7 linked regions of the Homo sapiens genome follow. The protein of the gene in region 3 purifies or fractionates together with the protein of the main gene of each other region. This does not show direct contact. Each region holds a gene or a part of one and is shown on either strand. Other genes may lie near its edges. The genes, in order: ZDHHC9, NDUFAF1, IPPK, OCIAD1, ZDHHC13, ADCY6 and ZDHHC18.

Region 1 (3,500 bases), on a different chromosome or scaffold from region 3:
CACTCTCCCTCCTCTTCAGTCCTGAAGACCCCAAGAACCCAGTTAGGATCCCCTGGCCAGAGGTCTCTGTGACTGCCTCTGGACTCAGCACGTGCAGCAGCTTGGGAGGATTTGAGCCAGTCTCAAAAACTTTTAGCCCCAGAATGAGACCAGTGACCCCAAGCAGGAGGGCTGGGATCTGGAGGGAAGAGAGGGGGTCCAAGGGGACCCTGTGGCTGAGGCCATGGAGAACCAGTGCCAGGGCCCAAGAGACCCATTTTTCCAGTTATCAGAGGTGACTGACATCTTCTGCCACTGCCTTGAGTTCAGAAATTTAAAAAAGCTTGCAGCAAGAAAATGCCAGTGTGCAACTGGGTGACTAAAGACCAAAGAAAAACAGTTAAAAGGGACAGCTTACTTGCTCTCTGTCTCAGGTTTAACTTCTCACCTGAAATCTCTCATAGCCCTAATTAAACACAAACAAAAGTCTCTTCCATAGATAGGCTACTTCTCAGCTTCAGCTGCCTCCTGTGGTGGCTCTGGGGGCTCTGGAGGTGGCATCTCTTCGGGAGTGCTGCTGTCCTCCGGCATCTCATTTGAGTTCAGGTGTTCTGTGGGGGCCTGAGAAGGAAAAGATATGAGATTCAACACAAAGCTGTTCCTCAAAATCCAAATGCAGATAAACCTTAGACACTGAACTCTTCCTCTCAGCCCCCTGATCACACTGATGCTACAGATATGCAGCCACCAACACCAAACTCAGAACCAACACCAAGCTATCGTCTTCTCGGCAGAACACAACTGAAGTTTATTTGAGTTTGATCCTTAACTGTTGGTTGGGGACAGATTTTTCTATTATTATTAATAGTCATAATAATAGGAATCACAAATAATTACACAGGTCCTCCCCACTTCAGAACAAATGTCATAACATACTTATGTAACAAGGCCTGACCCAATGGTCCTCAATCGTGTTTCTGCCCGAACACACAGCTCATTAGAATAGTGATTCTGAACCAAAGAAGGCCAAGTGTCCAAATTTTCAGCTGGTCATATGTGGTTTGAAAATGTCCCCAAGTGATTCTAAAATACCACCCTTCTCCACTTTGAACCAAGAATAACTAACCTAGATTGTTACAATTTGAGTCCAGACTCATTTAAAAAATAATATTAAAAATGACAACAATAATATATAAACACGGGTTGCTGTACTTTAAAAGGAAATTCAAAATTTAGGAAAGGCAAAGTAGAGAACTATTATCTACCTTATAAAAAGAATTCACTTAAAAGTATGATTCTGGCCGGGCGCGGTGGCTCACGCCTGTAATCCCAGCACTTTGGGAGGCCGAGGCGGGTGGATCATGAGGTCAGGAGATCGAGACCATCCTGGCTAACAAGGTGAAACCCCGTCTCTACTAAAAATACAAAACATTAGCCGGGCGCGGTGGCGGGCGCCTGTAGTCCCAGCTACTCGGGAGGCTGAGGCAGGAGAATGGCGTGAACCCGGGAAGCGGAGCTTGCAGTGAGCCGAGATTGCGCCACTGCAGTCCGCAGTCCGGCCTGGGCGACAGAGCGAGACTCCGTCTCAGAAAAAAAAAAAAAAAAAAAAAGTATGATTCTATTTTAAAACAAAGTTCAAACTACTAAAAATCTATTAGAACTAATGAACAAGGGCCGAGTACGGTGGCTCGTGCCTATAATTCCAGCACTTTGGGAGGCCGAGGAGGGTAGATCACTTGAGGTCAGGAGTTTGAGACCAGCCTGGCCAACATGGCAAAACCCGGTCTCTACTAAAAACACAAAAATTAGCCGGTGTGGTGGTGGGCACCTGTAATCCCAGCTACTTGGGAGGCTGAGGCAGAAGAATCACTTGAACCCAGGAGGTGGAGGTTGCAGTGAGCCAAGATGGCGCTGCCGCACTCCAGCCTGGGCAACAGAGCGAAACTCCATCTCATAAAATAAAAACAAAAACAAACAAAAAAGAACTAATGAACAAGCTTGGCAAGGTTTTAGGGTATAAGATCCATATATAAAAATCAATTGTCTTTCAATACACTCCAAGTGAAAAATCCAAAAATGAAATTAGTAAAACAATTTCACTTACAATAACATGAAAAATAATCAAATATTTATGAATAAATGTAACAAAAGTGTAAAACTTATACTCTGAAAACTACAAAATGTTGTTGAAAGAAATCAAATCATACCTAAATATGTGAAAATACAGTCCATGTAAATGGCTCAGAATATTTAATCTTGTTAGGATGGCAATATTTCCCCAAATTGATCTATAGATTCAATGAAATCCCCATCAAAATTCCAGCTGGCTTCTTTTCATAAATGACAAGTTGATCCTAAGATTCATACGGAAATTTAAGGCACCCAGAAGAGCCAAAACAATCATGAAAAAGAAGTATAAAGTTGGAGGACTCACATTTCCTGATTTCAAAACTTACTACAATGCTAAAGTAATCAAGACAGCGTGGTACTAGCATAAGAACAGACATATTGAGCAATACAATAGAACTGAAAGTCCAGAAATGAACTCTCACATTTATAGATTTTCAACAAGGGTGCCAAGACAAGTCTATGGGAGAAGAATAGTCCTTTCAACAAATGGTGCAGAGACAACTGGATAGCTACAGGCAAAAGAAAGAATGTGGACCCTCTACCTCACACCATATATAAAAATTAACTCAAAATGGATCAAAAACCTAAATGTAAGAGCCAAAACTGTACAGCTCTTACAAGAAAACAAGGGCATAAATCTTCATGACTTTGGATTAGGCAACAGTTTCTCAGATATGACACCAAAAAGTACAAACAACAAAAGAAAAAAATAGACAAACTGGACTACATCAAAATTTAAAAATTTTGTGCTCCAAAGGACACTATCAAGAAAATTAAAAGATAACCCATGGAATAGGAGAAAATATTTGCAAATTGTATATCTGGTAAGAGACTTGCATACAGATTACATAAAGAACTCTTACAACTCAACAATAAAAAAGACAAACAATCCAATTAAAAAATAGACAAAAGCTCTGAACAGACACTTCTCCAATGAGCACATAAAAATGGCCAATAAGCACATGAAAAGATATTCGACATCATTAGTCATCAGGGAAATGCAAATCAAAACCACAATGAGATACCACTTCACATTCACTAAGATGGCTAGACTCAAAATGTCAGATAATAAGTGTTGCAGAGGATGTAGAGAAACTGGAACCCTCAGGCACTGCTAGTGGGGGTATAAAATGGTGCAGCCACTTTGGAAAACAGTTCAGCAGTACCTTAAAGGTTAAACATAGAGCTACCATGTGACCTAGCTATTTTACTCCCAGGTATATAGCCAAGAGAAATGAAAATATATGGCCATGCAAAAATTGGTACACAAATGTTCATAGCAGCATCACTCATAATAATCAAATGGTGGAAACAATCCAAATGTCCATCAACTGATGAATGGATAAATGAAATGTGGTATATCCATATAATGGAATATCATTTGGCCATAT
Region 2 (3,500 bases), on a different chromosome or scaffold from region 3:
CAGCCTCTGCCTCCCAGGTTCAAGCGATTCTCCTGCCTCAGCCTCCCGAGTAGCTGGGATTACAGGTGCCCACCACCATGCCCAGCTAATTTTTTTTTTTTTTTAGTTGGAGTCACTCTGTCGCCCAGGCTGGAGTGCAATGGCACGATCTCGGCTCACTGCAACGTCTGCCTCCTGGGTTCAAGCGATTCTTATGCCTAGGCCTCCCAAGTAGCTGGGATTACAGGCATGGGCCACCACACCTGGCTAATTGTTTGTATTTTCTGTAGGGGTTTCACCATGTTGGTTAGGCTGGTCTTGAACTCCTGTCCTAGGTGATCCGCCTGCCCTGGCCTCCCGAAGTGTTGGGATTACAGGCATGAGCCACCGTGCCAGGCCAATTTTTGTATTTTTAATGGAGACGGGGTTTTACCATGTTGGGCAGGCTGGTCTCCAACTCCTGACGACAAGTCATTTGCCTGCCTAAGACTCCCAGAGTGCTGGGATTACAGGTGTGAGCCACTGTGGCGGGCTACAATTTTTGGTTTTTTTATTTTTTTTGAGATGGAATTTCACTTTTGTCACCCAGGCTGGAGTGCAGTGGTGCAATCTCGGCTCACTTGCAACCTCCGCCTCCTGGGTTCAAGTGATTCTCCTGCCTCAGCCTCCCCAGTAGCTGGGATTACAGGCGCTCTCCAACATGACCAACTAATTTCTGTATTTTTAGTAGAGATGGGGTTTTACCATTTTGGCCAGGCTGGTCTTGAACTCCTGACCTCAAGTGATCCGTCCACCTTGGACTCCCAAAGTGCTGGGATTACAGGTGTGATGCACGGCACCCGGCCAACATTTTTTAAAAAAATTAGCTGGGCATGGTGGTGTGCACCTGTAGTCTCAGCTACCTTGGAGGCTGAGGTGGGAGAATCATTTCAGTCCAGGGCCCAGGAGTTCAAGGCTACAATGAGTTATCGATCTTGCCACGGCGCTGCAGCCTGGGTGACAGAGCAAGAGACCCTGTCTCTTTTTTTTTTTTTTTCACATGGAATTTTGCTCTTGTCCAGGCTGGAGTGCAGTGGCGTGATCTCGGCTCACTGCAATCCCTGCCTCCTGGGTTCAAGTGATTCTCCTGCTTAAGGCTCCCTAGTAGCTGGGATTACAGGCGTCTGCCACCACGCCTGGATTATTTTTAGTAGAGATGGGGTTTCACCATGTTGTCAAGGCTGGTCTCGAACTCCTTACCTCAGGTGATCCATCCGCCTCGGCCTCCCAAAGTGTTGAGATTACAGGCGTGAGCTACCACACCTGGCCTGACCCAGTCTCTTATAAAAAGAAAAGAAAAAAAAAAGGCCGGGGACAGTGCATCATTCCTACAGCCCAGCACTTTGGGAAGCCGAGGGGAGAATCACTGGATCCTAGGAGTTCAAAACCATCATGGGCAACACAGGGAGATCTATTTCTTTTTCTTTCTTTCTGTTTTTTTTTTTTTTTTTTTTTGAGACAGAGTCTCGCTCTGTTGCCAGGCTGGAGTGCAGTGGCACGATCTTGGCTCACTGCAGCCTCCTCCTCCCAGGTTCAAGGAATTCTTTTGCCTCAGCCTCCTTAGTAGCTGGGACCACAAGTGCGCACCACCACACCCAGCTAAGTTTTGTATTTTTAGTAGAGACGGGGTTTCACCATGTTGGCCAGGATGGTCTCAATTTTTTTTTTTTTTTTTTTCCCGAGACAGAGTCTCGCTCTGTCGCCCAGGCTGGAGTGTAGTGGCGGGATCTCCGCTCACTGCAAGCTCTGCCTCCTGGGTTGACGCTATTCTCCTGCTTCAGCCTCCCCAGTAGCTGGGACTACAGGCGCCCGCCACCACACCCGGCTAATTTTTTGTATTTTTAGTAGAGACGGGGTTTCACCGTGTTAGCCAGGATGGTCTCGATTTCCTGACCTCGTGATCCACCCGCCTCGGCCTCCCCAAGTGCTGGGATTACAGGCGTCAGCCACCGCGCCCGGCCCAGTCTCTATCTCTTGACCTCGTGATCCACCCACCTCAGCCTCCCAAAGTGCTGGGACCGTGCCTGGCCAGGGAGATCCATTTCTACAAAAAATTTAAAAATTAGCTGGGCATGGTGGTGTGTGCTTGTAATCCCAGCTACTTGGGTGGCTGAGATGGGAGGATCATTTGAGCCCAGAAAGTAGAGGCTACAGTGAGCTGTGATTGTGCCACTGTACCCAGCCTGGGCCACAGAGCAAGACCTTGTCTCAAATAATAATAATAATAATAGTAAACAAATAAGTTAACAAACTTCAAAATACCTGATTTCTGTTGAATTTGAAATTGTGATGCATTCATTGCTATGCTGATAATTCTTCAATGTCTCTTCTGTTATAGGTAGAATTGGGCTATTTGCTGAAGCTTCTTGGTGGCCCTTGCTAGCCCAGGAAGAAACTTACATTTTGATTTTTTTGTACCATGGCTTTGGTTCACAAATTGCTGCGTGGTACTTATTTTCTCAGAAAATTCTCTAAGCCAACTTCTGCCTTGTATCCATTTTTGGGTATTCGCTTTGCAGAGTATTCCAGTAGTCTTCAGAAACCAGTGGCTTCTCCTGGCAAAGCCTCCTCACAGAGGAAGACTGAAGGGGATTTGCAAGGAGATCACCAGAAAGAAGTTGCTTTGGATATAACTTCTTCTGAGGAGAAGCCTGATGTTAGTTTCGATAAAGCAATTAGAGATGAAGCAATATACCATTTTAGGCTTTTGAAGGATGAAATTGTGGATCATTGGAGAGGACCGGAAGGCCACCCTCTGCATGAGGTCTTGCTGGAACAAGCCAAGGTTGTCTGGCAATTCCGGGGGAAAGAAGATTTGGATAAGTGGACAGTGACTTCTGATAAGACGATTGGAGGCAGAAGTGAAGTGTTTTTGAAAATGGGCAAGAATAACCAAAGTGCACTGCTATATGGAACTCTGAGCTCTGAGGCGCCTCAGGACGGGGAGTCTACCCGAAGTGGGTACTGTGCAATGATATCCAGGATTCCAAGGGTAGGTGAGGCCCAGGAGCCATCGTTTTCTAGTAAACAGGGGTGAACTTCATTGTAGCATAAACTATAGAAGATAGCTTTTGTTTCTGTAAATGAAAACACCTGGCATGTTATATTTGGCACCTCACCTGTGTCTGGGGATAAGTAACTATTGGCACAAGTGTGAAGTGGAAGCACAAGGGGGAAGTGGTTTCTGAGGAGGAGGAGTTAACTTGTTTCTGCGCATTGCTTTGGGCCAGGAACGAGCATTGTTATGTTTCAGGAATCCTGAGAGGTTAGACATTTGAAAGATTTTTGGAGAGATTTTCATCTCCTCTAAAAAAGACCACAACCTCTGTAATGACCAGGGGTTTTGTAGAGTGGATGTAGGGTTAGCCTGTGGCTTTCTTTTTTTTTTTTTGAAACGGAGTCTTGCTCTGTCGCCCAGGCTAGAGTGCAGTGGCGTGATCTCGGCTCACTGCAACTTCCGCCCTCCAGGTTCAAGCGATTCT
Region 3 (3,500 bases):
CATTAAAAGGGACACCTGCCAATGGGAAGCCTGAGGGGGCACCTTATGGGTGGAATTAAAGCTACTAACTACAAGAGCCTTTCAGGACAGATGAGGAGAGACTTTCCCGCCACCCACAGAGGACTCACTCTGGAGGGGTATCACCCACAAAATCAGCTGTTCCAGAGATCTGTCAAAAGACAAGGACCAAGGTCAAGTCTTCCATCAGGCTGAGGAGATAACCTGAAGCTGAGATCAGACAACTTTCATGGGAAGGGAAGACAGAAAAAGACAACAGCAGCAGGGGTCACCCCTCAGGATGCCTTCTAGAAGCAATGCTCAGCTCCAGCTTCTTCCGAATTGTGAAGATGACTCCCAGGCAGGGGCCATGGGGGATCCCAAATGTCCAGTCTCAAGAGGCTGCCCTCCCTGTAGACCCTCCTTAGCTTACCCCCGCAGCTCCAGCTCCAGCTCTGTCCCAGCCAGAGAAGGCTGCCCGGGGTCTGTCAGTCACCAGGGGCAGGAGGTGCCGAAGTCCACCTCTGCAACCCAGAAAGGGATGTCCAGGATGCGTAGGACCGTGGAGGGAACAAGAAGCAGGGCTTACGGTACTGGGCTCCAACAGGAAGCGCTCCCAAGGGTGAGCTTCGCTTCACTGGGAATGTATGGCCTCAGATAGAAATACAAAGCACATTTGACACCGGATGAAAAGTGACATCACCAAGATGCCTGTGGAGGATGGGAGCCCAGTACTCTGCAGGCAAGAGCAGGGAGGCCAGACTGGAGACAGCCTGGGGTCAGGGCGCAGTAAGTGCTGGCCCCTTGTCCAACCTGTATGGGGCATGTCCTCAAGCCTCGGCAACTCCGTCCTGACCTCATGGTGTCCTCTGCAGGACTGAAGCAGGCACAGGTGTGGGCCATGGGGGAGGTCACACACCCACACAACTCTCAGAACATGGGGAGGCCTGTGGGGATAGGCACACCTCGTGCATGGGGCTGACCCCTATAGGCATGGAAAGCCTCACTGCCTGTAAAGGGGAAGCAGGGCTGCCTAGAGGCCCACAGTGAGGGCCACAGGGAACTGTGAGCAAGTCCGGGCCCTCAGATCTCCCAACCGCTTGGCAACAAGGCAGGAGTGGCCGGGCCCTAGGCACAGCCTTGCTCTCTGCAGACACAGTAATGATGCTTTTCTCACCCTCCTGGATCGCAGCTCTCAGAAGACACAGGAAGTCACTGGGGAGCTTTGCTCTGACTGAATTCTGATGCAGAAGGAGGCTCAGTCAGGCAGAAGAAAAGTGGCTGTGTGACCTCAGAAGGTGTAAAAGTAGGAGGTGAGCCAAGGCCAAACCAACAAACCCCCGTGCACGAGAGGCACTGTCACAGGCTGCAGTCACCAAACAGCAGACCTCATCACGCAACTGCAGATACAAAGAAAGGAATAAACAAAGAGCGAGCCACAAGCACAGCTCTCCAATGAGCTCAAATGAGACAAGAAGGAACATCACCAGGAAAGAAGCCACATCAGCTGCGTCAGCCTAGAGCGCCACTAAAAATCCCAAATGCAGAATACATCACTAGTTTAAACAAAATGCTAGCAGTAACAGAAAGCTAAGACTATTTCAACTAGGTCCAGCTAAAAATTGTAAAAGGGAGCGACCAAGGGCTTGGGCACATGTTATACAGTCAGAAAAAAACAGAGAACATAAACGTATGTGCTTTCAGCATCCACAGTAGGAAGTATGGCCCAGTTAACAGTCCTGCAGGACTGCACAATGGCTTTCCACTTAACCTGTTCTAAGTGATTCTGTAATGGATATCTTTGTGTATAAGATCTTTATTTACGTTTCTAATTATCTCCTTAGAACGGACTACTAGAACAGAAATTAGTAAATCAAAGAGTATAAACTTTTTAAAAATTAATCTTTTTTCCTGAGTATCATACATATCCATTGTAGGAAATTCAGAAAATATTTAAAAAACAAAAAAAAGTAAAAGTGATTCGTGATACTATCAGTTACAGCCACTTAGAACATTTTCATCTATTTTCTTCTAATCATTTTGTAATTATAACCACATCATGCATCTTCTTTTGTAACCTGCTTTTTCTACGTAACTGTAAACACATCCTCATATAAAGGACTTAATTCATCCACTACAAAATAATCATTTAAATTATTAAAATATACAAAATCATGCTGTATGGCAAAAAAAATACATATATATATGATCTATGAACCAGAAATCTTAAAACACAAGATGAGAAGAGAAACAGTAGAAGGGCACCTGACCGCTTGAGCTTCACACCTTCAATGCCCAGACAAATATCCCAAGCACTAAACAGGTACCAAAGGGACACCAAAACTCCCCAGGCAACAAAACAATTTGCAGAAATGATCTGAAGCTCTCAGACTCTCAGAAAGGTCACGAAACTGGAACAACTGGAAGTGAGCAGCTTTGTCCACACATGTGATCAATTTAGTTGGCTGGTAAGCCAACTAAATGGCAAAGTCTTTCCTGTCACCTCTGTCAGTAAGAAGGAAAACATCATGACAGCTTAGTGTCATGACAGGAGTGGGCCACCTTCTGCCCCTGCTCCCCAAGGCTGAGGTGGTCCGGAAGGGGCTCAGTGCCCCAGACAAGTGCATGATCCAGATCTGAAGACACCTAGGAGATGGAATGACAAACCAAACCTAAAGTGACCTTCATAGGACAGGACACTGAGCCAAAACCAACAAGCTGAAGGCGAAGGAGGCAGGCGCAGGCGTCACACAGGAGAGAAATCCTGCGGCAGTGCATAAAGGGGCAACCTGTGGACTTCACTAACCTGAGATGTGGCCACTGGCCCAAGTACTGCACCTTCAGGCTGCAGCGAGGAAACTGTGCCCAGATGGGAAGTTCCCTCATCAAGGAGCCCCCACAGGGTCAGTGTCTGGAGCTCCAGACACACACCAGGGAACATGCCAGGCTGCCGAGAGCCTCTCAAGCATGCCACAGGGTCCACACCACATGAGGCAGAGAACACCATGGTTACCTGTGCCTGGGAAAGTTCAGGTGCACAACCATCCCAAACAGAGGCAGAATGCAAACTGACAGGCAAAATGAGAATCATCCTGGGCCGTCTCTGAGTGGAAGGGCCTTGGGGAAGCTGACCACCTTCTGTCAGGAACACCTTTAAACGCCTCTCTATGGCTGGCCTGCTATTTACCTTCCTGCCCACCCTGGGCACAACCTCCCACCCTCCTGTAGCCCACACCTAGTTCCTCCATCCCCAGGCCTCATTTCCTACAAGTCCTGCGCTGCACAGAAGGCTCTCTCTCATCCCATGTTTGCATACTGCAGGAAGAACATCACTGTGCTCCTTCTAGTGCTGACAGCCAATGACCATGCAGATCTCCTTACCTAGGCCCTCGGCTCCTGCAGGACGAGCTCAGGCTGGCTGAAGGCGCATCATGTTCTCATGGTAGAGGGGATGGGGGTCAGCACAGGACTCATTAGGGACCTTTCAATTCTGAGAGAAGCTG
Region 4 (3,500 bases), on a different chromosome or scaffold from region 3:
TATAAAATTCTGGAACAAATAATGAAAATATACATCAGACAGAAGAAGACTGGGGAGAATTTCCCACACTATGGAGAGAACATGATTTACTATTTTGGGAAGGTTATAAAGAACTGGAAGGAATAAAAAAATGTAAAGTGGCACTGATTTAAATCTAACTGTAATAAACTCTAAGTCTCCTAACAGCTCTGAAGGAGTGCTTGCTATTTTAAAAGATTAATAACTCTCTGAATTCCTGGTAAAAGAAAGCAGAACTAAAGTAGGACTTAAACCAAAGAATAAGATGCCCTGGTAGGGGAGGATAGCATCTGGGGCAAAGCAAAAGCAGGCCACTGCTGGCCCATGTGGAGAGCAGTAAAAAAGTAGCCACTTTGATTTAGAGAAGGGGGTCAGAAGGCAGAGCAGTGGATGGATGGATGGCTGCTGTGGAAGGCATAAAATAATATTAAGACATGGCCTTGCTAAGTAGTCTGTGGGTAGATACCAAAGGGCTTTTTGTTTGTTGGCTTTTGTATGGAAAAAAACTATATAACAGAATTTCCTAATGCAAATGGTGGGGAAGATGCAAGTCATCACAAGGAAAGAGTTAGTGCATGTCTAGAATACAGTAGTGCCCCCTTATCTGTGGTTTCGCTTTCCAGGGTTTCAGTTACCTGCAGTCAACCATGGTCTGAAAATATTACATGGAACATTCCAGAAATAAACAGTTCATAAATTTTAAATTACACCCTGTTCTGAGTAGTGTGATAAAATCTTGTGAGGTTCTGCTCTGGTCCATCCAGGACTTGAATCATCCCTTTGTCCAGCATATCCACACTGTCTACACTACATGCCTGTTAGTAACTTAGTAGCCATCTAGATCAAAAAAACATAGAACATAAAGGATTTGGTAATATCTGAGGTTTCAGGCATCCACAGGGGTCTTCGAACTTATCCCCCATGGATAAGGGGGGACTACTGTACAAGAAGAATGGATTTGAACTTCAGACTGGTTAAATGAGACATAGTGAGGAACAAGGACAGCTGCCTTTGGAGATAAGATAGTGACTTTAGCCATTCTCTCCTAATCTGCCCATTCCCTTCCTTCCTTTTCTGACTAATTTGATGCCTTTGCTTCCAACCATTAAAGAAAAAAATAAAAAAATCAGAGTTGAGGATTAAGAAGCTCTCAATAACTTTCATCCAAATTCTTTAATCATCTGAACTTCCATTCTTTCCTGTCTCTTCCTTTATACAAGGCTAATACTCACCCCTTTGCCCCGACTTTTGCTCTTAAGTAGTGCTGTCCAACATAACTTTCTGCAATGATGAAAATGTTCTATATTGGCACTAACACGGTAGCCACTAGCACATGTGACTATTGAGCAAGTGAAATGCTACCAAAGCAATTGAGAAATTGAATTTTAAATTTCATTTAACTTTAATTAATTTAAATAGCCACATATGGCTAGCGGCTACTCTGACCTACCTAGAACCCCCTTCTGCATTCTCTAGAACCTTCTCTGACCTATAATCAACTTCTCCCTTTCCACTGTATACCCTCCCCTCCCTTTAACTTCTTTCCCTCTAATCTTTTAAAATTTAAAGAGTATACTCTACAAAGGTCCATAATCCCTTATCCAAACCTTGGGGTCAGGTATGTTTCACTATTCAAAGTTTCTGAGGTTTTAGAAAAATACTACAGTAAATACCCCTTATATTACTTAATATCCATCCATTCAGAGGTTTAGGACAGGAATGAGTAAGCAAACACATTAATATTTCTATAATGAAATAAAGGAAAAATCTTATCTGGCAAAGTAAATAAAGTCTACGTTTATATAACTTATGTGAATTTAGGTCAGGGTATTCTGCTAAATGAATTCAGGTCAGATTTTATTACCAGTTTAATTATTAAAAAACAAAAACAGGCCGGGGGCAGTGGCTCACACCTGTAATCCCAGCACTTTGGGAGGCCGAGGCGGGCGGATCACGAGGTCAGGAGATCAAGACCATCCTGGCCAACACAGTGAAACCCCATCTCTACTAAAAATACAAAAAATTAGCCGAGCGTGGTGGCGGGCACCTGCAGTCCCAGCTACTCAGGAGACTGAGGCAGAATGGCGTGAAGCTGGGGGGGCGGAGGTTGCAGTGAGCCGAGATCGCACCACTACAGTCCAGACTGGGCGACAGAGCAAGACTCCATCTCAAAAAAAAAAAAAAAAACAAAAAACAAAAAAAAACTTGGCTTAAACCTTTTTGAATTTCAGGATTTTAGATAAAGAATTACAGACCTGTATTTCCCGTTTCTAATTCCTCATCTTTTACTGCCGACTAGACTGAAGGAAAGAAACTAATGTTTTTTGAGTCTATTATTTGCCAGACATTGCCTCTGATTATTTCCTCTAATTCCAACAGTTCATTAAGAGAGGTAGTATCATCTCCATTCAACTGATCAAGAAACTGAAAGGATCATAAAGTAGTTATAATAATATTACTACATTATTATAATGTAGTAGTAGTATTACAAGGTCACATAGCTAGCAAATGTCAATCATGATTCAAATCCAAGCCTTAATACAAAATTGATGTTGTTGCACTTACATGTGTGATCTTCAAAGCTAGTATTTACAAACTTCACAAAGCATTTTCACATGGATTTTCTCACTTGACAACAGTTCTTTCTTGTATTACAGACAGGGAAGCTGAAAGCCTTTAAAACCCAGCCTATCAAATGTAACCTTTTTATACCTTTCCTGGAGCTCTACTTCCTGAGACACGATTTATCATTTCTTCTTCACTATTCCACTAAGCTTGCCTTAGTATTTTCAATTACTGGGACATACTAGTAATTCATCCTTGTATTTCTATATCTTCTAACAGACTGAAAGTTTTTCAGGGACAAGAACCAAGTGTTATTCATCTTCTTCCACGTCTAGCAGAGTCCTTGACACCTACTGGTCCTCAAGAAAAGTTGAATGAATGAAGAAACAAATGAACAAACATGCTGAGTTTAGGTTGATGATTGATGGTAGAACACACAGGTGATATCCAGCAGAAAAGGTCATCAAATAAAGTTTATACATACGTTGGACCATAAAATGTTGAAATTCATTTCAAGAGAAGTTTCTACCTTGGACAATATGATCAGTAATACCAGTGGGAGCAGATTCATTCATAGAAGAACTGAATGGAATTGGCTCATAATGAGGAAGCATTTCTATGTTGTCTGCTGCTGGGGATGTCACAAAAGATGATTGACCACTCACACTTGAGTCATATTTTGACTTTTGATAATAGTGCCTGTAAATGAAAATCATATTGTAGTAAGAAATATGAGTCATTGCCTATATCTTAAAGAAGTGTTAAAATAACTTCTTTCATATAGCTTATTTCCAAAATTATATATACATATAATTTTTTTTATTTTTTTGAGACAGGGTCTTGCTCTGTCACCCAGGCTATAGTGCAGTGACGCAGTCTTGGCTTATTGCAATCTCCACCTCCTAGGCTCAAGCAAT
Region 5 (3,500 bases), on a different chromosome or scaffold from region 3:
TACCACTTCACACTAGTCAGAATGCTATTATTCAAACGTCAAAAAATAAGAGATGCTGGCAAGGTTACAGAGACAAAGGAATGCTTATACACTGTTGATGGGAGTGAAAATTAGTTCATTGTGGAAAGCAGTATGGCGATTCCTCAACGAGCTAAAAGCAGAACTACCATTCAACCCAGCAATCCCATTACTGGGTATATACCCAAAGGACTATAAATCATTCTACTATAAAGACACATGTATGTGAATGTTGACTGTAGCACTATTCACAATAGCAAAGACATGGAATCAATGTAAATGCCCATCAATGACAAACTGGGTAAAGAAAATGTAGTACATATAAACCATGGAATACTATGCAGCCATAAAAAAGAATGAGATCATGTCTTTTGCAGGAATACGAATGGAGCTGGAGGCTATTACCCCTATGCAGGAACAGAAAACCAAATACTGCATGTTCTCACTTATAAGTGGGAGCTAAATGATGAGAACTCATGAACACAAAGAAAGGAACAGCAGGCTGGGCATGGTGGCTCATGCCTGTAATCTCAGCACTTTGGGAGGCCAAGGTGGGTGCATCACTTGAGGTAAGGAGTTCAAGAACAGCCTGGTCAACATGGTGAAACTCCGTCTCTACTAAAAAAAAAAAAAAAAAAAAAAAAAAATTAGCCAGGGTGGTGGTATGTGCCTATAGTTCCAGTTACTTGGGAAGCTGAGGCAGGAGAATCACTTGAACCTGGGAGGCAGAGGTTGCAGTGAGCCGAGATCACACCACTGCACTCCAGCTTGGGTGACAGAGCAAGACTCCACTGCAAAAAAAAAAAAGAAAAAGAAAAGAAAAAAAGAAGAAGGGAACAACAGACACTGGGGTATACTTGAGGGTGGAGGGTGGGAGGAGAGAGAGGAGCAGAAAAAATCACTACTGGGTACTAGGCTTAATACTTGGGTAAGGAAATAATCTATACAACAAACCCCCATGACATAAGTTTGTGTATATAACAAACCTGCACATGTATCCCCAAACCTAAAACAAAAGTTTTTAAAAGAAAGTTTTAAAATTTTCAGTTTTACTTAAATGAGTCCATAATCCCTCAAGGGATTATTTTGAAGGGGCACTGTTTTTAAAAAGTTAATTTACAGTAAAATTAACTTTGGTATACAGCTGTATGAATTTTAACACATGTATGTATGGAGTCACGTAACCGCCACCATCATCCTTTGCAGTCATACCCTCCCGTAACCCCAACCAACTCTTGGCAACCACTGATCTGTTGTCATTAATTCTGTCTTTCCCAGAATGTCATATAATGGAATCATACAGTACACAATCTTTTAGGAGGGGCTTCCTCCACTCAGCACAATGGTGCTGAGATTTAACCAAGTTGTTGTATGTTATCAATAATTCCTTCTTTTTTACTGCTGTGTAGTATCCCACTATATGGGTGCGTCACAGATAATCTATCCAAACAGTCTGCGTGGGTTGTTTTCCAGCTTTTGGCAATCATAAACAGAGCTGCTAAAAATATTCGTGGACAAACTTTTGTGTGAACATCCTTTCATTTCTCTAAGAATAAGACTGCTTGGCCATATGTTAGGTATATTTAAATTTATGAGAAACTGCTAAACTATTTTCCAGACTGGCTATATCACCTTGCATTGCCACTAACAACTATGAGAGTTACAATTGTTCTGCATTCTCACCAGCACTTGGGATTGTCAGTCTAATAGATGTATAGGGGCATCTCATCATGGTCTTAATTTGCATATCCTTAACGGCTAATGAAGTTGAGCATCTTTTCACATGCTTATTTGCCACCTGTATATCTTCTCTGGTGAAGTGTCTGTTCAAGTCTTTTGTCCATTTTTTAATTGAGCTGTTTGTTTTCTTACTGTTAAGTTTTGAGAGTTCTTTATATTATATATTCTAGATACAAGTCTTTTGTCAGATATGTGATTTGCAGATATTTTCTCCTGGTCTGTACCTTACCTTCCCATCTCTTAAAAGTCTGTTTCATAGAGCAGAAGTTTTAAATTTTAAAAAAGTCCAATTTATCAATTTGTTCTTTTATGGATTGTGCTTTTGGTGTCACGTCTAAAAACTACTGTCTTGGGGTCACAATTCCTCTGTTCAGAGAGTTCTCCCTCAGTGTTTCTGGTGACTGTGCTGCCAGGAAATCCCTTTGTGGCTCCTTGAGCTTTAACTAGATAGCTTCTCATAGAGCACTCGTCTGCACTGATGCTTATTTCCAGGGCTCAAGTCAAGGCTGGGGGCAAATCAGAGAGAAAAAAGGTAAATCAGCTACTGATTTGGTGGTTTTTGAATTCCGGTCTTTTTCTTCTTCAGTCCACCTGCTTTTCTGAATAGGTAAATTCTGATTTATCTGGTAAATAATCAGTACCCCCCCACACACACGCAGAATCACACACAGCTAAAAATAAACATGTAGGTAGTTAGATTAAAATGTAAATAAAAACATTACTTTAGGATGCTTTTCCTGATATCACAGTAATTATATTCAATTGGAAGAAGGCAAAGGGTTGAGGAAAAGAGTTGAACTATACTAAAAATTTCTAGAATCTCAATAAGTAACAGGTATAACAAAAAGTGCAGCTAAGATTGACAAAAAAAATCAGTGTATTTTTATATAAAAAATTTTTACTAGAATTTTAAAACCATAAAATGATAACATATTAATTTTAAAGATCTAGCAATACAGAAGTGAATACAGGGTTAACAATCCGGACTCTTTCCTCTTCAATACTGTACCACCAGAGATAACCATTATTAACAATTGGGTGCATCTTCCCTCATTATGTATATATATTTTAACATATATAATATTGTGCTATATACATACATACATCCACATTTTTAATCATTTTCTTCTTATACTTATTGAACAAAGAATAGTATCACATTATATACATTATTCTTCAACTTGCTTTTCTCATGTAACAATATATCATGTACAGTCCTGCAGTTCAGTAATATTTCACTATTGTTCCATTGTATATAGATCTAGTATAATTCATTCAACACTCCCCTTTGGTTAGAGACACAGGTTGATTTCAGCCTTTCATATCTATACACAATCAACACCCTGGGCATTCTAATTCTATAGGATTGATTCCTCAAAGTAGGACTGTTGAGTCAAAAAACGTGCATTTTAAACATAAATAGATTCTGACCAAATACTCTCCCCAATTCACAGTCCCAATAGCAAAGTATATACGTGTTCTTTCTCCCTACAAACCTTCCCAGAACTGAATATTATCAATCTTTTTACAACCTTGACACTTTGATGGCTAAAAATGGCATCCTATCTTTCACCTGTACTCCCCTAGTTGCTAATGAGTCTGAGTGTTTTGTTTGTTGTTGTTGTTGTTGTTAGGTATACTGGCTCTCCATATTTTCTCTTTTGTGGATTGCCTTTTCATAGTCTACTTGTTTTTCTAATGAATTGCACATATCTGTTTCTCTTTGTAGGTTAGAAAGATTA
Region 6 (4,033 bases), on a different chromosome or scaffold from region 3:
CCCTGAGTCACCCTCAGCCAAGATCTGTCAGCACCCCTTCTCCTATATCCCACAGAGCAGCACGTCCTTCAACCTCCTTTTGTTTTTTGGTTTAAGACGGAGTCTCACTCTGCCCCACCTAGGCTGGAGTGCAGTGGCACAATCTCAGCTCACTGCAACCTCTGCCTCCTGGGTTCAAGCAATTCTGCCTCGGCTTCCCCATAGCTGAGATTACAAGCACCTACCACCACACCCGGCTAAATTTTGTATTTTTAGTACAGACAGGGTTTAACCATGTTGGCCAGGCTGGTCTCGAACTCCTAACCTCAGGTGATCTGCCTGTCTCGGCCTCCCAAAGTGCTGGGAGTATAGGCATGAGCCACCATGCCTGGCCCCTTCAACCTCTTAACATCACCAACAGCACCATCTGGAAGGACAGATCAGGAATACAAGACTTTTGGTCAGGCTGGCATTTGGAAAAGGTCACCAAAGAAAGCCTTGCTCTTCAAAATACTTCATTAGAAGCATGATCTTTGGCATGAGACCAGGGTTCCAAACCTTAGCGTGATTATTTGCTAGCCACACTGCCTTGGGCAAGTTATTTAACCTCTCTGTGTCAGTACCTTCATCTGCAAAATGGAAATGATAATGGTCCTCAGGAAAGAATCTAATAATGCCTGTCAAGAAGTACACACTTGAAAAATATTAGTTCTTCTCCTCACTCTACAACACTTTAAACCCAAACCTCTGTCATCGTCAAGAGATGGAAAGATGAGGAAATCATGAGCAAGAACACACGTCTTTCTAGCCAGTCAGATGCCTGGTTCTATCAGTCCCTGTGTCCTTGGCTGTCAGTCCCCAGAGCTGCTGGAGACAGAGCCCAGAGTGAGCAGGTTTCCCACCACCATCCACCACCCACAACATTTTGCTTCAGCCTCCTCCATTCACCAGTCCCCTTCCCTGTTCTTATCTCCCCCAACACACCACCCCCACCAGCACTGGCCCGGACCTGTTCCCAAAGGACTAGTTTCTGGCCATGTTCCAAGCCCCCTGGAAACACATCCTAGCATCTGGCTCATACTCACAGAGAAAGGGGCAAATGCTATCCAGGAGAATGCATGACCCTCCCAGGAACACTCTGACCCCCCCCAAGGGGATAGCTTCAGAGCTATGTAATTGTCCAACCAACTGCAACCATCCCACCCTGGGCTCCACTCCAGGCACTGCCCATCCCGCAGAACTTGCCGGCCTCCCAACATTTCTGGCACCCCATGCCAGACTGGTATGGCAGGAAACAGGGTAGAGCACTGTTCCAAGCCACAAAATTTCTCTATATGGTCCCCCAACCCACTTTGTCCAGCAACCCATCACTATGAGCCCTGGGAGCACAGACCACCTCCCTCCTCCCCAGAGTCAGGCTCCTAAGCCTTGTGCCTCTACCTTCTCCTCCCCTGAGTGTTGGTCCATTTGCACTCTCACAGATCTGCTGTTCTTCATACCACCGGCTCCCACAGCCACAGCCATGTCCCATTCAGCCTGGCAGGCCCAGGCTCAGTGCCTCCCAGACCTCAAGTCCCTCCCAAACCCTGATCAGGCTGAGACCAGAGTTTGGAACCAGCCAAGGCCAAGGCCCAGCCCTAAGGATGGCTCTGCCCACTGCCTTGCCAAGCCTTCCTGGCCACCTCCTGTCTATCCCATCCCCAGGGCCCATCTGCCCCTGCCCTCCTTGGCAAAAGGAGGCTCCAGGGGATTAAAAACGACTTCAGAAAGTTCATGGTAAGAGGCACTGCCCAGGCGGGGCCCAGCAGTGCCAGCACCACCCACCATACTCGGACATGGGCCTCAATTCTTCAATTCTGGGCCTTTCCAGATGTAGAGGAGCCTACCCAGGGCCTGTATCTGTCGGTCCAGTGCCCGCTGCCGCCTTCTCCCATCCCCAGTCCTCACTCTCCCTAAAGATTACAGAGGGCTCCCACATCACCCTTTACTATGCAACCCCCACCAGGTCCCTCCAGCTCACAGGGGTAATCTGGTAAGGAGAGGATATGGGCAAAGAGGCTCCCACGCCTGATTCCACCTCTAGCCTTTCAGTCGAGCCCCAGAGTCTGCTTTGAATAAAGTCAGCTCCCCTGCCCACCCTGCGGCAGGCCTTGGGGGATGTGGGGAGCCGACCCCACCCCTTTCATTCCCAAGGTTTTGGGTGAGGGGAAGGAGAGGGACTCCCGCAGACAGAGGGCATCCCTCCCTCTGCCCAGGCCGGTTCCTCTCCCCTAAATGGAATCTCCCCCAAACTCGGAGACACCCCACAGCCCCGCAGCAAAAAACTCAGGCCAGCCCCTCCCCCAGTACGTGCCAGATCCTCCTGGCCTCCGGGCCAGCCTGGAACTCGCCCCGTGGAGGGAGGCAGGCGGCGGGCGACGGGGGTGGCGAGCGCCGGACCTAGGAGTCCTCGATCCCACTGCCTCCATGACTTCCCTTTGCCAACCCCAACTCCCTCGGGCAACACTGCCGAGACGACCCGTCCAAGGCTTCGGCGCCCCCACCCACAAACTCTTGTCGAGAGCCGCTCGGGTGCGTTCCAATCCTGGCGCACCGGGAGCCCGAGCGGCCACTTCCCCTAGCCCTCAGCGCGCTCACCTGCCGGCCCGGCTCCGCGCCTGCCCTGGGCCCCCGCCCCGCCGCCCCCGCGGGCTCCGGCCGGCCGGCCGGCCGTCCCGCGGTCCTCCGAGCCCGCGCGTCCTGGCCGTCCCGCCCGCCGTCCGCCGTCCGCCGTCCGCCCGGCCCTCGCCCCCTCCCGAGCTGTCCAGCGCAGCCGCCCTCTACCCCGGATCCAGAAGTCCCCTCCCCGCTGGCTCCCGGACTCCCCGCCTTAAAGGCACAAGCTCCTTTTGTCTGGGCATCCCCCTCCCCCTCCCCAGAAGTGGGGGCCGAGTTGCCCACTCCCCTTCCTAGCAGCGGGGTAGGGGCGGAGGAGGCCAAATAATGGGACCCCTCCCTCCGCGCGCCCCCTCCTCTCCTCCGGCCGCTTCCTCCCCCAGTCCTGGGAAGACAAGCAGCTACTGTTCTGGGATCAAGACCCCGCGGGGAGGGGACCTCGCAGCCCGGTCCCCTTCCCTTCACCCCGGCCGCCTCCTCCGGCATTCCTCTCCCGCCCTCACCCCGGGGGTCCCCGAGCGCGCCCGCAAACCCACCCCTCACGGCTACATCCCCCGCCCCGCCCACCGAGGGTCGCCTTCCTTCCTGTCAGGGTCCCAGGGGTTGGGCCGGCGCCCCGCGCCCACTCTTCATCCCCAATTCCTCCCTGCCCCTGCCCCAGCCCCAGCCCCCACCTAGCCATTCCCGCCCTGCCTGTCACGGCCCTGCGCCCTCCCGCGGGAACTCAGTTTAATAATTAATTAAGCTCTCATTCCACAAGGCGCCAGGTGTGTGCGGCCTGCTTGCCCGCACACCACTTCTTTCCTCTTCCCCCCAGTCTCTGGGGCAGCGGCCCCGAGGCGAACCTCGGGGCCCAGTGGAGGGACCCAGGGAAGGGGCACTCTCCCTGCCGCCCCCACAACCCCCCGCCCTACTCTCTGGGAGCCCCTCCCCCGCACCTGCCAACTTGCAGCCTCACCCCCAGGCATCTTTTACCCAAAGGGCTGTGCTTCTCTGCTGGGGGTTGGAGGGGCTACTGGGGTGCATTGCTAAGTGCACGAACTGAGAAACTGGGTCTTTAGTTATTTCCAGCACGGAGCAGCTGCCCAAGTTACCTGGGAGATGGGAAAATCGTGTGAAAGCTGGTTAACCCTTTGAGGATTAGAGTAATGGTGGAAGCAGAAAGGAGAAGGAGTTTCACTCCAGGATGTACGTAGGTGAGTGTGACTTTAGAGGGGGTGCCATTCTGGAGCTGGGAAGAAGGCAGCCTGCCTGGCTTCCTTTTGAGGCCCCCTCTCCATTCCCTCAGTCAGACCTCTAGCTCCTCCTTCCAATTCAGCCCTTCCCCAAGCAGCCTATTCCCCACCCAAGATCCCAAGACCTAGGTATCTGAAGATGCTTCCTCCTCAGGACCAGCCCT
Region 7 (3,500 bases), on a different chromosome or scaffold from region 3:
CCTGGCCAATTGTTCCCTAATTTTTGTTTGTTTTTAGAGACAGGGTCTTGCTCTGTCACCCTGGCTAGAGTGCAATGGAGTGATCCTGGCTCATGCTCACTGCAGCCTGGAACTCCTGGGCTCAAATGATCCTCCCACCTCAGCCTCCTTAGTAGCTGGGACTATAGTCACACGCCGTCATACCCGGCTAATTTTTGTCATTTTTTATAGAGATAGGGTCTTCCTATTTGCCCAGGCTCATCTTGAACTCCTGGGCTCAAGCAGTCCTCCCATCTTGGCCTCCCAAGGTGCTGGGACTACAGGCATGAGCCACTGCATTCGGCCTGTTTCGTAGTTTTTAATCTGTAGTCAGATTTCCACAGTTGCCCTCCAAATGTCTTTTGTTGCTGTGTTTTGTTTTGTTTTTCAAAATAAGATCCATGATGTATTGCATTTGTTTATGTCTCTTAAATCGCTTTTAATTTAGAATCATCTCCTCTCTGCCTCTCTTTCTCTCTCTCTCTTTTTTTTTTAAGACAGGTTCTGGCTTTGTTGCCCAGGCTGGAGTGCAGTGGCGTGATCTTGACTCACTGCAGCCTTCACCCCCTGGGCTCAAGTGATCCTCACTCCTCAGCCTCCCAAAGTGCTGGGATTACAGGTGTGAGCTACTGCACCCGACCTCCTCTCTCTTTTTATAAATGACATTGACTTTTGTTAGAGATCAGGCCAGCAGTCTTGTAAATGTCTCATATTCTAGATCTGACTTTTTCCTCATTGTGTTACTCACTTTGTTCCTCCATCTCCTGAACCTCCTGTAAACTGGGACATAGGTCTAGGCTTGATGAGATGCAAATAAACCTCACTGGCTGGGCGCGGTGCATCACTCCTATAATCCTGGCTGTTTGGGAAGCCAAGGTGGGCAGATCACCTGAGGTCAGGAGTTCAGACCAGCCTGGCCAACGTGGTGAAACTCTGTCTCTACTAAAAATACAAAAATTAGCTGGGCGTGGTGGCACACTCCTGTAATCCCAGCTACTCGGGAGGCTGAGGCATGAGAATCGCTTGAACCTGCGAGGTGGAGGTTGCAGTGAGCTGAGATTCACGCCACTGTACTCCAGCCTGGGCGACAGAGTGAGACTCTGCCTCAGGAAAAAAAAAAAAACCCTCACTAAGCTTTCTGGGAGTCTCCTTCTCTGACAGCCCTTCTTAGAGTGGGTAAGGCCGGCAGGTGTATGAACAGAGGCAGTCTCAGTACATGGTGGCAGTTCCTAATATTTGTCCCTGCCTTAGGCCAGACATTTTACTCCAATGTTTGTTCCTGGGAACCTGTTACCCTGAGGCTTCTCCTGGACTGGCCAGGCAGCAGTAGCTTTCCCCTGCTGGGGATCCGGGCCCTGGGCTGCCTTGGGCATTCCCCATCTTTCTCTCCTCCTTCCCTCAGACAACACAGGCAGTTCTACATACCGGCCACCCCCTCGGACCCGGGAGGTGCTGATCAACGGGCAGATGGTGAAGCTGAAGTACTGCTTCACCTGCAAGATGTTCCGGCCACCCCGAACCTCACACTGCAGTGTCTGCGACAACTGTGTGGGTGAGTAGGAGGCAGCAGGGAGGGATGCAGGGATTCCTGAGAGAGACTGAGTCGTGGGGATGGGGGGCATCAAGCATGGGGATGGCGTGGGCAGGGTCTGAAATACCCAGGGCTGGGCAGGGGGTCTGGTTCACCCAGATTTGCCCTGACTCAGGAGGGCCCAGGGGAGGGGCCCTCAGCATAACCAGGAGTGTTTTGGCTTCAGCTCAGGATTGGTGGATTCCTTCCCCCAGCTCTGAGGTGTGGGGCAGACAGACAGGCTTTGAACCCTTCTCCCAGGCTTCAGCCCGGTCCTCAAGAGGTCCAAGCTCCCAGGAAACAGACTGGAACAATAACATTCCAGATGTGTTTGGGCCAGAAAGAATGAGTTACTGTCCAGTGGCCCAGGGCCAGCTGTACTGAAAAACTTTGATCTGATTCCCAGAGTTGAGAGGGAAAAGCATCTAGCAACAGAGGCGTTTAAGCTGATGAGGTGCAGAGGATGTCACCACTGGAAATGGCTCCTGACCCTACAGCTGCCTGCAGTGGTTGTTTTGTCCCCTCTCCCTGCTCTCCAGAGGCTGTGTAGTTCTGATGGGCACCCTGAGAGGGTGTTGTAAGGGAAATAATGCATGAGAGGGCCCAGGTGAGCTGAGCCACAGTGACTGTGCATAGTTCCCAGGGCAGTGAGCTCATCATGCCAGCTCAGTACTCCCTAAGCAAGAGAACAGCAGGGAACACCCCCCCGTGACGGCATGCAGTGAAGGGGGTGACTCAGTGGGCACCATTCATCCCCAAGGAGCTGCCCCGCCCACGCCGTGCAAAGGGCACTGGCCTTGGCATGAGGCCTGCAATGGGCTTGTGACCCACATTCCCACAAGGACTTTCTTTACCAGTCTGGGTGTGCCTCCACCCCCGGGGACAGTGTGCAGGTGAGCTCAGCCCTTTGACCTGGCCTGTGATGCTGGCTGGCTGTGAACCCCATTGCAGCTCAGCCCCTCCCTGGGCCGCTAGTCCTAGAGCAGGAGACGGGTTGTTGACTGTTAGCATGTGGTTGGGATGGTAGACCAGGTGACAAGTATTTTTGTGAGTCTTTGTGCCGGCACTGCTCTGGATCCTGGGGAGTCAGCATGGTGTAAGACCAGCACAGCCCCCCTCGCCCATGGAGCTTACAGTCAAGTAGGGCTGATTGGCCAATCCAGTTATTATAAATAAGCATAAAAACACACATGGGCAGAGTGTGACAAAAGAGAAGTGATGGGGCAGATAACAGGGGCCCCCTCCCCTAGTCTGGGATTGGAAGAGACTTTCTTAAGGAGGTGGCTTTGCAGCTGAGACGCGAAGGAGAAGTTCCAGTTAACCAGGTAAAGAGACGAGAGAATGTATCAGGCAGTGGGAACTGGTACACAAAGGACCAGAGGCAGGTGTGTCCAAGGCCTGGGAGCCAGCTGGTGCTGCGAGAGTGAACGGGGTAGGAAAGCCCCAGCCATGGGTGAGGCCGCCAAATGCCTGTGCTGGCTGCAGGCCAGCCCACACTAACCCATCGCCCCTTGCCCTTGTCCAGAACGATTTGACCATCACTGCCCCTGGGTGGGCAACTGTGTGGGGAGACGGAACTATCGCTTCTTCTACGCGTTTATTCTCTCCCTCTCATTCCTGACGGCCTTCATCTTCGCCTGTGTGGTCACCCACCTGACGTTGCGTGAGTTGTGGGTGAGGGCAGTGGGGAGTGGAAGGGGTCAGCCAGCAAGCTCAAGGGTCAGCAAGCTTCAGCAGTCACTGTCCCTCTGAGCTTGTCCTCTCCTGTTTCTTTCTCCCCAGGCGCTCAGGGAAGCAACTTCCTCTCCACTCTGAAGGAGACACCAGCAAGATATCCTTTGTCAGCTAGAGGACACTCCAGTGGGAACTGAGGTCCCTTCACTGGGTGGGTGCCCTGCCTCATCCTCTAATC

The links.
Region 1: the proteins of IPPK (region 3) and ZDHHC9 purify together in Homo sapiens (affinity purification with mass spectrometry; 2 studies listed by BioGRID and IntAct, with this or other methods). This does not show direct contact.
Region 2: the proteins of IPPK (region 3) and NDUFAF1 purify together in Homo sapiens (affinity purification with mass spectrometry; 2 studies listed by BioGRID and IntAct, with this or other methods). This does not show direct contact.
Region 4: the proteins of IPPK (region 3) and OCIAD1 purify together in Homo sapiens (affinity purification with mass spectrometry; 2 studies listed by BioGRID and IntAct, with this or other methods). This does not show direct contact.
Region 5: the proteins of IPPK (region 3) and ZDHHC13 purify together in Homo sapiens (affinity purification with mass spectrometry; 2 studies listed by BioGRID and IntAct, with this or other methods). This does not show direct contact.
Region 6: the proteins of IPPK (region 3) and ADCY6 purify together in Homo sapiens (affinity purification with mass spectrometry; 2 studies listed by BioGRID and IntAct, with this or other methods). This does not show direct contact.
Region 7: the proteins of IPPK (region 3) and ZDHHC18 purify together in Homo sapiens (affinity purification with mass spectrometry; 2 studies listed by BioGRID and IntAct, with this or other methods). This does not show direct contact.

What each region holds. Positions count from the first base shown.
Region 1 is NC_000023.11:129,805,887-129,809,386, forward strand, and holds part of ZDHHC9 (palmitoyltransferase ZDHHC9), read right to left. Parts: intron 601-3,500; coding exon 484-600; 3' UTR 1-483. UniProt on the Homo sapiens protein: Palmitoyltransferase that catalyzes the addition of palmitate onto various protein substrates, such as ADRB2, GSDMD, HRAS, NRAS and CGAS. The ZDHHC9-GOLGA7 complex is a palmitoyltransferase specific for HRAS and NRAS.
Region 2 is NC_000015.10:41,395,997-41,399,496, reverse strand, and holds part of NDUFAF1 (complex I intermediate-associated protein 30, mitochondrial precursor), read left to right. Parts: intron 1-2,356; 5' UTR 2,357-2,437; coding exon 2,438-3,010; intron 3,011-3,500. UniProt on the Homo sapiens protein: As part of the MCIA complex, involved in the assembly of the mitochondrial complex I.
Region 3 is NC_000009.12:92,663,632-92,667,131, forward strand, and holds part of IPPK (inositol-pentakisphosphate 2-kinase), read right to left. Parts: intron 1-3,500. UniProt on the Homo sapiens protein: Phosphorylates Ins(1,3,4,5,6)P5 at position 2 to form Ins(1,2,3,4,5,6)P6 (InsP6 or phytate). InsP6 is involved in many processes such as mRNA export, non-homologous end-joining, endocytosis, ion channel regulation.
Region 4 is NC_000004.12:48,851,588-48,855,087, reverse strand, and holds part of OCIAD1 (OCIA domain-containing protein 1), read right to left. Parts: intron 3,283-3,500; coding exon 3,113-3,282; coding exon of another isoform or gene 3,096-3,112; exon of another isoform or gene 2,863-3,095; intron 1-2,862. UniProt on the Homo sapiens protein: Maintains stem cell potency. Increases STAT3 phosphorylation and controls ERK phosphorylation. May act as a scaffold, increasing STAT3 recruitment onto endosomes. Involved in integrin-mediated cancer cell adhesion and colony formation in ovarian cancer.
Region 5 is NC_000011.10:19,123,668-19,127,167, reverse strand, and holds part of ZDHHC13 (palmitoyltransferase ZDHHC13), read right to left. Parts: intron 2,260-3,500; exon of another isoform or gene 1,996-2,259; coding exon of another isoform or gene 1,988-1,995; intron 1-1,987. UniProt on the Homo sapiens protein: Palmitoyltransferase that could catalyze the addition of palmitate onto various protein substrates. Palmitoyltransferase for HTT and GAD2. May play a role in Mg(2+) transport.
Region 6 is NC_000012.12:48,786,290-48,790,322, forward strand, and holds the start of ADCY6 (adenylate cyclase type 6), read right to left. Parts: upstream 2,801-4,033; 5' UTR 2,617-2,800; intron 2,568-2,616; exon of another isoform or gene 1-2,567. UniProt on the Homo sapiens protein: Catalyzes the formation of the signaling molecule cAMP downstream of G protein-coupled receptors. Functions in signaling cascades downstream of beta-adrenergic receptors in the heart and in vascular smooth muscle cells.
Region 7 is NC_000001.11:26,847,188-26,850,687, forward strand, and holds part of ZDHHC18 (palmitoyltransferase ZDHHC18), read left to right. Parts: intron 1-1,420; coding exon 1,421-1,570; intron 1,571-3,113; coding exon 3,114-3,251; intron 3,252-3,370; coding exon 3,371-3,419; intron 3,420-3,500. UniProt on the Homo sapiens protein: Palmitoyltransferase that catalyzes the addition of palmitate onto various protein substrates, such as CGAS, HRAS and LCK. Acts as a negative regulator of the cGAS-STING pathway be mediating palmitoylation and inactivation of CGAS.